Homo sapiens: one gene and its partners. Changing the gene in region 1 together with any one later gene gives a genetic interaction. Each region holds a gene or a part of one and is shown on either strand. Other genes may lie near its edges.

Evidence for each region.
Region 2: changes in ZNHIT6 (region 1) and NOP58 together harm fitness more than expected from each alone (negative genetic interaction), as found in Homo sapiens cells (one large-scale study listed by BioGRID).
Region 3: changes in ZNHIT6 (region 1) and NSMCE1 together harm fitness less than expected from each alone (positive genetic interaction), as found in Homo sapiens cells (one large-scale study listed by BioGRID).
Region 4: changes in ZNHIT6 (region 1) and NACA together harm fitness less than expected from each alone (positive genetic interaction), as found in Homo sapiens cells (one large-scale study listed by BioGRID).

What each region holds. Positions count from the first base shown.
Region 1 is NC_000001.11:85,680,934-85,684,433, forward strand, and holds part of ZNHIT6 (box C/D snoRNA protein 1), read right to left. Parts: intron 1-3,500. UniProt on the Homo sapiens protein: Required for box C/D snoRNAs accumulation involved in snoRNA processing, snoRNA transport to the nucleolus and ribosome biogenesis.
Region 2 is NC_000002.12:202,293,263-202,296,762, reverse strand, and holds part of NOP58 (nucleolar protein 58), read right to left. Parts: intron 1,090-3,500; coding exon 926-1,089; intron 1-925. UniProt on the Homo sapiens protein: Required for the biogenesis of box C/D snoRNAs such as U3, U8 and U14 snoRNAs. Part of the small subunit (SSU) processome, first precursor of the small eukaryotic ribosomal subunit.
Region 3 is NC_000016.10:27,234,273-27,237,772, reverse strand, and holds part of NSMCE1 (non-structural maintenance of chromosomes element 1 homolog), read left to right. Parts: intron 1-2,473; coding exon 2,474-2,595; intron 2,596-3,500. UniProt on the Homo sapiens protein: RING-type zinc finger-containing E3 ubiquitin ligase that assembles with melanoma antigen protein (MAGE) to catalyze the direct transfer of ubiquitin from E2 ubiquitin-conjugating enzyme to a specific substrate.
Region 4 is NC_000012.12:56,715,300-56,718,799, forward strand, and holds part of NACA (nascent polypeptide-associated complex subunit alpha), read right to left. Parts: coding exon 572-3,500; intron 1-571. UniProt on the Homo sapiens protein: Cardiac- and muscle-specific transcription factor. May act to regulate the expression of genes involved in the development of myotubes.

The DNA.
Region 1 (3,500 bases):
AAGGTAGATAATAAAAGTCTGGATGCAAATTGAACTTTCTAAATTTTCACTTTAAGATAATTCCAAAATTATTCTTAGACTTTAACATATATTTTCTATTAAGAGCTAATTTCTCTTGCAAGGGTTATTAAGAAAGAAAAAAAAGGGAAGCAGTTCTAAATTCCAAGGACTTCACATTTCTGAATCAGAAAGCAATTTCTCATAGTTCAGGGGCTTTTGGGAGCAGTGTGCTACTATTTGAAGTTTACAAATAAATTTCCTCATGACTAAATACAATGAGCTGATGTCTTTGCTTGACTAGTCTGGAAATTAGGTGAATGAAGTATTGTCCGGTTGAGTCCAGCTGGCTGGAGATACACTTCTGAGGCATGAGTACGTGCATTCAGTAGCAAAACAGGAGACAACAAGCTGGTTGCTAAGCAGAATGCACTTTGAGCTACAGTCTTTTTGCTTTCAGGTCTAAACTTTGGTTTGACATAGCATCAACAGCAATAACTCACTAAATGTCTGATTTTAGAAAAATGACTATATTTAATATATCTAAATTTAGAGACATTGACATGATTCCTTCTTTAAAAATTCTAATGCTCAAAATATTGAATCCAATACAGAAATTTAAATGTCTTCACTACATGATGATTTTACACAATGTTTTCCTTACTTAGAAGAAATTTCTAACAATCCATTAGAGCAAGTTAATGACTACCGATATCTCCTTAAAATCTATCCCATAGCAGTAGGACCCCAAAATCTAAAATAATTTTCTTTTAATACAATCTATCTTTCACCAAACATCTATATGATTTAGTAGAATTTCTGTCAGAAGACAAAGAACATAATTTTATTGAGAACAAAGTTGAAAAGTACCCTTTACTAATCTAAAGGACAGATGTCTAAAATCTCAGAGGAAAAAACATTTAAAAATTTGAATGCAAAAGCAACAGTTACTAGTTTTAAATAAATAATTCTTCCAAAATAAAACATTTTGCAATATTCATTATCTGTGAAATAGGAATACCATAATAGCATTATCACAAGGCTGACTTTTTTTTTTTAATAAGAAATAAACAGATTTTGTTCATCTTTTTTTTTTTTTTTGAGACGGAGTTTCGCTCTGTTGCCCAGGCTAGAGTGCAGTGGCATGATCTCGGTTCACTGCAAGCTCCGCCTCCCGGATTCACACCATTCTCCTGCCTCTCTCCTGAATAGCTGGGACTACAGGTGCTCGCCACCACGCCCGGCTAATTTTTTTTTTTTTTTTTTGGTATTTTTAGTAGACACAGGGTTTCACTACGTTCGCCAGGATGGTCTCGATCTCCTGACCTCGTGATCCACCTGGCTCGGCCTCCCAAAGTGCTGGGATTACAGGCATGAGCCACCGCACCCGGCCTCATTTTGTTCATCTTAATGCATAATATAGTTTCTTCCTAAATGTATGTTTTTTCAGGTTAACTTAGGGAAAAAAAGGATTACCAACTTGCCATCTTATGGAATTGTAAACCATACTCAATCACCCCAATTCTTGCTTGAGTAATTTCAAAAACCATTCGCCTTTTAACATTTAATACACCCTGAATACATTCAGAAAGCACTTAACATTCCAAACACAGAGAGAAAAGCCCTCGGAAATCATTTTATTTGTTGTAGTTAACTAGCTCTACTTATAACAAAGTCATTCATTGCTATACATTGCCAAATTATTGATAAAAATATTTCTATATTTGGCCTCAGCTCACACATGAACAAATCTGAAAAGTACACTAACTTTTAAAATGTGATCTTCCAATATTTCAAAAACAAAGAAAAACAGAATAATGTAAAGAACACTCAATGCACCCATATTCAGATTTAACTCATTTACAAATTGCCGTATTTTTGAGGTACTTTTATTTCTTCTAAGAAATAAAGGGCTATTGATAACAGTAGATGATTCTTTATATGTACTTTAACCCAAGGTGGGCAAACAGAAGTTGAAGGGTGTTGTATAAAGAACTGCTGGGGATGGGCGCAGTGGCTAAAGCCTGTATAATCCCAGCAATTTGGGAGGCCAAGGTGGGCGCATCGTTTGAGCCCAGGAGTTTGAGATCAGCCTAGGCAACATGATGATACCCCATCTCTACAAAAAATACAAAAATGAGCCAGGCATGGTGGCGTATGCCTATAGTCCCAGCTACTCTGGAGGTTGAAGTGGGAGAATCACCTGAGCCCAGGAGATTAAGGCTGCAGTGAACTGCGACTGCGTCACTGCACTTCACCTGGGTGACACAATGAGACCCTGTTTCAAAAAAAAGAAAAAATTGCTAGGCCAGGCAAGGTGGCTCACGCCTCTAATCCCAGCACTTTGGGAGGCCAAGGTGGGCAGATCATGAGGTCAGGAGATCGAGACCATCCTGGCTCACATGGTGAAACCCCGTCTCTACTAAAAACACAAAAAATTAGTCAGGTGTGGTGGCATGTGCCTGTAGTCCCAGCTACTCGGGAGGCCGAGGCAGGAGAATCACATTGCTTGAACCCGGGAGGCGGAGCTTGCAGTGAGCTGAGATTGAGCCACTGCATTCCAGCCTGGGCGACAGAGCAAGATTCCGTCACAGAAAAAAAAAAAAAAAATTGCTGAAATGGGTGAGTTAATTTTCTCTAAAATGGTTTCCAATTCTTCAGTATTGCTGAAATTACTGTAAGTCCTGACATGTGTTCTTCTTAAGACTGAAAGAATTAAGCTTGTTTCTCATTTTTTTATAATTATATATACAAATATATGTCCCACTTAAAAAAATATACATACATCAAAATCCTAGCAACATTACTTGGATTACTTTCTAAAGCTAGATTCCAAGAAGTACAATCACTAAGACAGAGCAGGGTTTCTCAATCTCAGCAGTGCTGATATTTTGGACTAGATAATTCTTTGCAAAGGACTTGGTCCTTTGCACTGCAGGACGTTTAGCAGCATCCTAGGACTCCACCCTCTAGATGAGTGTTCCACTAGGAACACTCATACACCCAGTTGTGGCCACCAAAAATGCTCCCAGAAATTGCAAATGTCCCCTGGAAGCAGAATCATCACTGTTTGAGAACCACAAGGATAAAGGTTTGAACATTTACAATTACTCCTAATGCATTAGAGCTACTGTTCCCTAAATTCAACAAAATGCCTTCAACTACAATAATGTCACTATACCCTTGGCATATCAACGTTCTCAAAAATGGTATTACTATACCTAGTATATTCTAGGTAACTTAGGGACTCCAAGATACCATGTTTAGAGTTGGGTGATAAGACTGGTGGAGTAATTGTGGCAACTTAATCCTTATGTTCCCTTCTGGACAATCTGACAAAGCAACAGAAACACTAACCTCTTCTGAGTCCTATGAAACCCAAGTAACTATTCATGCATAGCAAAGCTGTTTCCCTCTCCTCCTCTAAATATCAATACACACATGCATTCTCAATGAGGGCAGCATGGCCCCAAAGAGGGCAAAAACTGGTTCTCTGAAGGGCC
Region 2 (3,500 bases), on another chromosome or scaffold:
GACTCCATCTCAAAAAACAAACAAACAAACAAACAAACAAACAAAAAAAAGCGTGGGTTCTTTTTCAATCTAATTAACATTTTATTTTATTGAACGCTTTATTTTCCTCCACCACTCTGCTCTAAATTTTATCAATTTTCAGTTTAGATCTGTTAAACGACACATCTTTCAAAAACATTGAAAGTACTTAACTTGTCTAAGCCTCAGTTTCATCATCTGCAAGATAGAGATACCTACATCTCATAAGGCTACTGAAGATTTAGGACAGGCACAGGTGCTCACACCTGTAATCCCAGCACTCTGGGAAGCCGAGGTGGGTGGATCAGGAGGTCAGGAGTTTGAGACCAGCCTGGCCAACATGGTGAAACTGGTCTTTACTTAAAATACAAAAATTAGCCGGGCGTGGTGGCACGTGCATGTAATCCCAGCTACTCAGAAGGCTGAGGCAGGGAGGCAGGAGAATCGTTTGAACCAGGGAGCTGGAGGTTGCAGTGAGCCGAGATCAAGCCACTGCACTCTAGCCTGGCGACAGAGCGGGACTCCATCTCAAAAAAAAAAAGTTTAGTGACTTCTCTCAAAGTGTTTTAGCATAATGCATATGCTATTTTTTATGATTCGTAAATGTTAGATTTTTTTTTTGCTGCCAGAGATAGTATTTTCAGTGTGCCAACCACAGGGAGATTCTAGGGGGGAAAAAAATACTAACACAATGGAAGAAACTGGCTTTAATCCAACCAATAACAGTTTCTTCTAACCTTATCCTTCAGTGTACACAAAGCACTTTTTATTTAAATAACTCACCATTCCCTATTTAACAAGAAAGAGACAATAGAAGATTTAATGTGTACTACAGAGTAGAAGAAAAATGGGTTGTAAAAAATGAAAAAGTCTAACCTCAAAAACAAAGCAAAACCCTATAACACACCTTTCCTTTGTGTTTGGGACTTGTCTGGCCCACGAGTGAAGCATGATAAATGAGACCATACTTAGGGGTATCCCGTCTAGATTTGAGGGCTCTGAAAAGTGCCTTTTCAGCTCCAAGAATCTGAACGGTAGAAGCTGCATGCTTGGCCAAATTTAAAAGAGAACCTACAAAAGAAAAAAGTTACAAAGAATGCACCTCCAAATATATGAATGTTCCACGTACTGAAACAAAAGACCTATAGAATTATTACAGCCACCATAATAAATAAAAATCACATATAATATAGAATTCTATAATCCAGAATTCCCTAAAAATCTTGATGTTTCATTTGTAATTCCTTCATTAGCACAAGCAGGTTTGCAATGAATGCCTAGGACAAACTGAAGGCTAAGCTTATTAAGTTCAATGTTTCTATTCACCTGAGAGATGGCAGTACTATTCTAAATTCCATTAGTATACTACAGGAGTGACATAAATGTCACACACACGAACACTAATCTGGTCCCTGCTTTCTGAGATTGTATCAAATATTCTATTGCTTTAGATATGAAAAAGCCTACAAATAAACACATTTATTAGGAAGAGATATTCCTACAAGTATCTATTAATAGTCCCCTACCTGTGCTTTCACTTTGTGTGGTAAATTACCTGTGGTTAACTGCAGTCTGAAAATATTAAAAAGGAAATTCCAGAAATAAATAGTTCCTAAGTTTTAAATCTCTTGCTATCCCACTCAGCTCCCCCCAGGACATGAATCATCTCTATCTACCCATTAGTCACTTTCGTAGCCCTCTCCGTTGTGCAGTACTGCAGTGCTTATATTCAAGTAACCAATGCACAAAAATAGTTATGCTTGCATTTTTTTTTTTTTTTGAGATAGAGTTTCGCTCTGTTGCGCAGGCTGGAGTGCAGTGGCGCGATCTTGGCTCACTGCATCCTCCGCCTCCCGGGTTTAAGCAATTCTCTGCCTCAGCCTCCGAGTAGCTGGGATTACAGGCACCCACCACTACACCCAGCTAATTTTTTTTTGTATTTTTAGTAGAGATGGGGTTTCACCATCTTGGCCAGGCTGATCTTGAACTCCTGACCTCGTGATCCACCCTCCTCAGCTTCCCAAAGTGCTGGGATTACAGGCGTAAGCCACCACACCCGGCCCTGCTGGCATAGTGTTATAACTGTTATATTATGACTGTTGTTGATATCCTACTGTACCTAATTTATAAGCTAAGCTTTATTATAGATATGTATGTTTAGGAAAAAACAGCATATACAGTATAGGATTCAGTACTATCCTCTGTTTCAAACATTCTTGGAGGGGGGAGCTTAGAATACATCTCCATAAATAGCTGGGGACTATTGTTATCAACATGCTGCTTAGTTGGATATGCTGTATAGAATATTTCCTGTCAGAAAACAGACTCTATTAATACTATGAACTTAAGCACTAGACATAGTTTTAAAAGTGTAACAAATACATAGTTCTTTTTTTTTTTTTTTTTTTGAGATGGAGTTTCACTCTTGTCACCCAGGCAAGCAATGTCACCACTGCTGTGTGCAATGTCACAATCTTGGCTCACTGCAACCTCCACCTCCCGGGTTCAAGCAATTCTCCTGCCTCAGCATCCCGAGTAGCTGGGATTACAGGCTCATGCCACCAAGGTTGGGTAATTTTTGTGTTGTTAATAGAGATGGGGTTTTATTTACCATGTTGGCCAGGCTGGTCTCGAACTCCTGACCTCAGGTGACCCACCCACCTCAGCTTCTCAAAGTGCTGGGATTACAGGCGTGAGCCACCACGCCTGGCCAACAAATACATACTTCTATTAACCCCTGCCATTGCTTACTGCTACAAGTTTAGCTATACCTATGAAAATGGGTAGAGACAATGAAATCATCTGATCTTATAGCTGAGGGCATTTGAATGAAACCTTTGATTAATGATGCAGCTAAAGGAGTTACGCCAGGCCGGGCGCAGTGGCTCACGCCTGTAATCCCAACACTTTGGGAGGCTGAGGTGCGCAGATCACCTGAGGTCAGGAGTTTGAGACCAGCCTGGCCAACATGGCAAAAACCCTGTCTCAACTAAAAATATAAAAATTAGCCAGGCATGGTGGCAGCACATGCCTGTAATCCCAGCAACTTGGGAGCCTGAGGCAGGAGAATTGCTTGAACCTGGGAGGCAGAGGTTGCAGTGAGCCACTGCACTCCAGCCAGTGCAACAGAGTGAAACTCTGTCTCAAACAAAAAAAAAGGAGTTATGCCATTTTAAACACTCTGATGCAGATGATATAATCTTTTTTGATGAATTATAACAATGTCTCCAAGTAACATAAAAATGATGAATCAGTACTTCATTGTATTTGTAGGTATTCAATTACATAGCATTTTAATTATAGCATATCATCCTTATAATACTGCCATACACATATACAAAGTTTTATTATAAATCAGTTGTTGAAAATATTTTTGAAAGTCAAATATATTACATCCTCACACTCAATAGTGAAACTAAGGTAATCAATCAAGGGCACAAATCCTCTACAGTGATTTCTTTTTTTTTTCTTTCTCTACAGTG
Region 3 (3,500 bases), on another chromosome or scaffold:
TGGCTCCCTCCCTGCAACGGGGTGTCTGGAAAGTCCAATAGATCAGAATGCTTCTCATCTGCCCACAGGGCACATTGTTCTCAGTGATACCCAGGAGGGGCCTCGTTAGTGGAAAATGTGAATTGTCACTTTCAGAGAGGTGGGACTTGCCCCAGTGTCACACTGGGTGGACAGGGTTCCTGTCACTCACTCCGCACTGAACGAGGCTTTTTGATGTCTGGGCCTCTTGCACCTGAGCTGCCCAGCGTTGGCTCCCCTTGGGGGTGGAAAAGTGTGTCTGGCCAAGTCACTGGCACAGGCAGGTACGGAACAGCTCGGCTCCCACGCCAGCAAAGAGCTGCCTTGCATGCTGTGGAAGAGGAAGACAGCACCGGGGGCAGAAGAGAACATTTCCTGGAAAAACAGGCCATCCAAGGTGGCTGCCGCAGTGGAGGGAGAGGAGTTTTCAGAAAGGAGGGGCCCGTGAGCAGGGGCATGGAGGCAGGAAGTCAGGCCATGCCTCCCTCCTGATGCCTGCTCTCCAGCCGCCGAGGCCAGATGTCATTGTCATATGTTACGATCTCACCACATCCATGTTCCACCCACTTACTATGACTACTTTTTAATTTAAACTGCCTTTTAAAAACTTAACTGAAAGGGAAGATTAGCTCCTCGCTGAGCATGGCACATTAGTGTCACTGCCCTGGGCTTTGTTCTCAGCTTTTCTGGGCCCCACAGTCTGATCCTCTGACAGAGCTCATTGGCCTGGGTTTTCCTTGACTCTTTCACACGGCCACATCCTCCATTGTCACCAGCATGATCTTCTGTTGTTTTTTTTTTTAACTTTATGAATCTTGAGTTGTACGGGTAGCTTAGAAATGCCTCTGTCTAATAAGAAATCAAACACAGACATACAGCACGAGTGCCCTGTGATGACCCTTCGTTTAGTCCCTTCCTGGCGATGGCCTTGGTCGTCAGTCCAGTGGGTAACCTGCTGGGCCTTTTCCTGTGGGACTGTTTCATTGGTTCTGTTTTTGTTTCACACATGAATGTATCATATTGTCCATTTTTTCTTGCAGTTTTTTTTCCAGAATGATTTTCTAAGGCATGAATCTTTTGAAATTATTTATTTTAATACATAAAAACAGTAGTGAAAACAATAATACATACTCTTGCTTTAAAAAGTTTCACAGCACAAGCTGGGCGTGGTGGCTCACGCCTATAATCCCAGCACTTTGGGAAGCTGAGGTGGGCGGAACACTTGAGGTCAGGAGATCGAGACCAGCCTGGCCAACATGGTAAAACCCCATCTCTACTAAAAATACAAAAATTAGCTGGGTGTGGTGGTGCATGCCTGTAATCTCAACTCCTCGGGAGGCTAAGGCAGGAGAACTGCTTGAACCCGGGAGGTGGAGGTTGCAGTGAGCCAAGACTGTGCTACTGCACTCCAGCCAGGGCGAGAGCAAGACTCTGTCTCAAAAAAAAAAAAAAAAAAAAAAAAGTTTCACAGCATAAAAGGGACACAACGCTGGCCATGTCCTTCCACTGCTTCCAGTGCTCAGAGGCTTCCTGGTGCCACAGGAGAAAGGCCCTGCTGTCCCCGGCCACGGGCTCCTGTCCTCACCGCAGCCTCTCTGTCCTCCTCAGCTGAGCCCCCGGCAATAGTGTGGGTGCCCCCTCCTCAGACTGATGGACCTGGATGGTGGCCCCTGGGCTGTGAGCATCCTGCTGGCAGGGCCAGGGGAGGTGGGCGACAGAGAAGTCAAAGCCCCGGCCTTGTGGTGCAACTCTGGGCGAGTCAGTTCACCTCTCTGCGTCTCAGCCTCTTCCCCTGTGCCCAGAGAGCTGCTGGAGGGTGGATTCATGACGACAAAAGGTGCCCAGGACAGGGCCTCTCCATGCTGAGGGCTCGCTGCAAGCCACCCTTCTCACCCCGTTTGTTGTTATTCTTACTGTTCCAGCCCAGGACCCAGCACAAGCCTGGCATGTAAGTGAGGATAACCCGACATTGAATAAAAAGAGAAAGGAATAAAGCTCCACCTAAGATGTGTGGGGACATACAGGGACAGAGGCCTCTCGCGGGGCACTGGGGATGCGATAGAAGGGCTGAGATGGGATAGGATGTTTGTGCGGCGGGAGCTCACGCAGGCTCTGAGCACATCATTGAGTAATGCGCTGAAGGTGCTGATTGGGACTCTCATCAGGAGGCAGCGAGCAAAGACAGGAAGCCCGCGGCAGCCTCCGTGGTTGCAGATAGCATCTCCCTGGCCCTCCTGCCTCACAACGCCCTCCATCTGTTGTCTGTTTGTCTTCCAAGTACTCCAGGAAGAAAGAAGCCACGTGGCATTGGCGTTCACCCAAGAGGCTGCAGCCTCCACCCATGTCTGGGGTTGCTGTCCCCTGCGTTGAGATGGGATGGAATGATTCAAGCAAGCTACATTTTTTTGATGAGGCCCCCTGGTCACCCCCCTTTTTTTGGTCTGTTTATTTCCAGGCAATGCCACCGTAGATAAGTTGGAGGACTTCATCAACAACATTAACAGTGTCTTGGAGTCCTTGTATATTGAGATAAAGAGAGGAGTCACGGAAGATGATGGGAGACCCATTTATGCGTTGGTGAGTGCCCGGCAGAGCCCTCTAGTGGCATTTTTGAGGAGCTGGAACAGGGCCCAGGCAGCCTGTGTTTGCTTTGGTTTGATTTCTCTTTTGGACAGTTCTTTGCAAAGAAGTCACTCCAAATGTATAGAATATTAGGAATAAAGGGAGAAAATGGTTTTTTATTTAGAATAAGACATAGAAGCTATGAAAAGAAACTCTGTAGGAGTGTCAAGGATTGCAGGCCATGTGGGTGGGGCCTTCAGTGGTTTTCAGATTTACTCTCACAGGTAGGGATTTGGGCCTCATCCCTCCTGCCGCCGACTCCCCGTTCACCCACGTGATGTGTTCAGGATGCCACAGCCAGAATGGCAGAGCCAGGAGTGAAATACAGCCAGGGTGAAATACAGGAGTGGGAAGCTGACATGCCCCATCCCTGGCTAGGAGACACCTCAGCTGGTCAGAGGACATCTGGCTGCTCCCAGCCAGGCTCACACTCAGAAAGGGGCACTCTAGTCCAGGGTTGCCCAAACTCAATTCCCTGGAAAAAAAACATTACAGAGTCAAAGAACTGTGGAAATGCTGGTCAGACATGGCAAAGCAGATTTCCTTGCTATCAGACTTCTCAGTGCTTTTTTTGCATTTGAAGCTCCATTAACATGCAGACAAATCTCCCAAATTTATCTGAGTTTGGAAAATACTGCACACCCTTTGGAGTTCTGAAACTTCTGAGGGCCCAGCATGTTGGCTGAGCTAAAGAATAAAGTCTGTAATATACGCCTGGTTACAGATCCATCCCTGCGGCCCGCAGTGCCTGGATACAGGAGCTCAGTGACTGGCCAGAGATGGAGGAGGGGAGGGAGGGAGAGCCAGCGACACGTTAACCAACACGCAAAGAGCACAGCCTGACTGTCGTGCTGACTTAT
Region 4 (3,500 bases), on another chromosome or scaffold:
ATTTCTTTCAATTCAAAGGCCAAGCATCAGTAAAGACTACTGAGGAAAAAAAGCATACACCTGCACCATTTTCAGGCTAGGAAAAACAGATTTCTACATTTTTATGAAAAGGGAGTCCCTGGGCAACTGGTCATTACTAAGTCTAATAATGGAAAAATAAATACAAATAGTTCAATTCTCCAATAATTTTACCAAATCTCAGGCCCAGGGACAAGGTTAGTTAGTGATGTGGTAGGGATTAGAGCAAATGAAAAGGTCTGGCAGGTCTTGGTTTTCAATGTCAGATCAATTAGGTAAAATAGATGGCATGGCAGGCTCAGGGTAGTCCGGGCCACATTACACAAAAATGATACACAATGTACTATGTATCTATCTGAAGTAATGAAAACCAAGATTTGGTTTCATATTCCTAGAACTTTTGCATTTAAAATTATCATTCTATGTTCTACATCCAAACCCAAGCAGATTCACTGGAGAAAGCGGCGCATCACAGGGTTAGTATTGGTGGGTAGCGCCCAAGAGGGGTGTGGACGACAGACACACCATGCACACGGCAAACCAAGGCAAATACCCTTGTTGTTCTTCGTAACAGGTTGCTTGGCAGAGGGGGTTGGGACAGGGATTCCAGCAGATTTAGGGGTGGGCATGTTGACGAGGACCGACTGGAAAGGCACTCCCCCAGAGATTGGTTCCGGGGGAATCAGAGGCAGCAGCTCATCCTCATCAGCAGGGGCAAGGGGTTTAGAGGGTGATTCCAACACCAGCCCAGGAGAGGACGGCAGAAATTGCTGTTTAGGAGGCAGAGTGGGAACTGGGGAGGGAGCAAGAGGCAGAGAGACTGGTGGGGAGGGTGCTGCAGAGACAGATGCTGATTCAGGTTTAGGAAGGACCTTCTCAAAGGCAGCTGCTGTTAGAGGGGTGGACGCCTTAGACTCAGGAGGAGCCAAGGGGCCCTTTGGGGAATGAGAAGCATCTTTGCCTTTTGCTGTCTTTGAAGAGTCTTTCTGAACAGGGAGTAGAGGGGCTGGAGCCACTGTGGAAAGGGGTCCTTTAGAACCATTCTTAGCTGAGGGATCTGGGCATATAGGAGGTGAAGTAGCAGAACTCTTTTTGGTCTGTGGACCTTTCCGAGTGGGAGCTGTGATGATTGGCGTGCTTTCTGGAGCTGGGGCAACAAGTACTTCTTTCAGAGCTGTGGGGCCTTTCTTTGCTGGAAGCCCTTTAGATGCTTGAGGAACAGTGGCCCCCATTTTACATGTGACAGAAGCTGGGGAAGTAGGGGAGTCTTTGAGGGAGGAAGGAGTCACAGGTGGGGAAGTGGGAGTCCCTTTGGGGGCTGGAGTTGCTGGGCCCTTTTCGGGGGATGGAGGAGTCACAGCTGGAGGAGTAGGTGCCTCTTTGGGGGAAGGAGAAGTCACAGCTGGTGGAATGAGGAGCTCTTTGGGGGATGGGGCCCCTTTGTAAGTGGAAGGAGTCACTGCTGGGGGACTGGAGGCCTCTTTGGAGGATGGGGTAGCTGGGGCTTCTTTGGGGGTTGGAATTGCTGGGGTCTTTTTAGGGGAGGGAACAGTCATAGCTGGGGGAATGAGGGCCTCTTTGGGGGCTAGAGTTGCTGGGGTCTTTTTAGAGAGAAGAGTCGCTGTTGGGGCAATGGGGTCCCTTCTGGAGGATGGGGTAGCTGGGACCTCTTTGGGGGAAGAAGGAATCACAGCTGGCAGAGTGGGGGCCCCCATGGGGGCTGGAGTTGCTGGGGCCTTTTTGGGAGAGGAAGAAGTGGCAACTTGTTTGGGGGCTGGGGGCTCCTTGGGGGAAGGAGGAGTCACTGCTGGGAGGGTGGGATCCCCTTTGGAGGATGGGGTAGCTGGGCCTCCTTTGGGGGCTGAAGTTGCTGGGGCCTTTTTGAGGGAGACAGGAGTCACTGCTGGGGGAGTGAGATCTCCTTTGGATGGGGTGGCTGCGCCTTCTCTGGTGACTGGAGTTGCTGGAGCCTTTTTGGGGGAGAGAGGAATCACTGCTGGGGAAGTGGGGTCCCCTTTGGGAGATGGGATAGCTGGTCCTCTTTTGGGGGAGGGAGGAGTCATAGCGGGACCTCCTTTGTGGGAGGGGGTTGCAGCTGGGGGAGTGGGGCCCTCTTTGGAGGATGGAGTAGTTGGGCCTCCTTTAGAGGAGGGAGTTGTAGCTGGGAGAGTAGGGGTCCCTTTAGGGGAGGGAGGAGTTACAGCTGGGGGAGTGGGGGCCCCTTTGGGGGGTGGGGTACCTGGGCTTCCTTTTGGGGAGGGAGGAGTTGCAGCTGGAGGAGTGGGGGCCCCTTTGGGGGGTGAGGTAGCTGGGCCTCCTTTTGGAGAGGGAGGAGTTACAACTGCGGGATTGGGGGCCCCTTTGTGGGGTGGGGTAGCTAGACCTCCTTTTAGGGAGGGAGGAGTTGCAGCTGGGGGAGTGGGGGCCCCTTTGGGGGGTGGGGTAGCTGGGCCTCCTTTTGGGGAGGGAGGAGTTGCAGCTGGGGTTGTGGGGGCCCCTTTGGGGGATGGGGTAGCCAGACCTCCTTTTGGGGAGGGAGGAGTTGCAGCTGGGGTTGTGGGGGCCCCTTTGGGGGATGGGGTAGCTAGACCTCCTTTTGGGGAGGGAGGAGTTGCAGCTGGGGTTGTGGGGGCCCCTTTGGGGGATGGGGTAGCTAGACCTCCTTTTGGGGAAGGAGGAGTTGCAGCTGGGGTTGTGGGGGCCCCTTTTGGGGGTGGGGTAGCTAGACCTCCTTTTGGGGAAGGAGGAGTTGCAGCTGGGGTTGTGGGGGCCCCTTTTGGGGGTGGGGTAGCTAGACCTCCTTTTGGGGAGGGAGGAGTTGCAGCTGGGGTTGTGGGTGCCCCTTTGTGGGGTGGGGTAGCTAGACCTCCTTTTGGGGAGGGAGGAGTTGCAGCTGGGGGCATGGGGGCCCCTTTGGGGGATGGGGTAGCTGGGCCTCCTTTTGGGGAGGGAGGAGTCGCAGCTGGGGGAGTGGGGGCCCCCTTGAGGGATGGGGTAGCTGGACCTCCTTTTGGGGAGGGAAGAGTTGCAGCTGGGGTTGTGGGGGCCCCTTTGGGGAGTGGGGTAGCTGCTGGACTTCCTTTGGGGGAGGGAGGAGTTGCAGCTGGGGGTGTGGATGCCCCTTTGGGGAATGGGGTAGCTGCTGGACTTCCTTTGGGGGAGGGAGGAGTCACAGCTGGGGGTGTGGGGGCCCCTTTGGGGGATGGAGTAGCTGGACCTCCTTTGGGGGAGGGAGGAGTTGCAGCTGGGGGTGTGGGGGCCCCTTTGGGGGATGGAGTAGCTGGACCTCCTTTTGGGGAGGGAGGAGTTGCAGCTGGGGGTGTGGGGGCCCATTTCGGGGATGGGGTAGCTGGGCCTCCTTTAGGGGAGGGAGGAGTTGCAGCTGGGGGTGTGGGGGCCCCTTTGGGGGATGGGGAAGCTGGGATTCCTTTAGGGGCTGGAGTTGCTCGGGCCTTTTTGGGGGAGGAAGAAGTCATGGATAG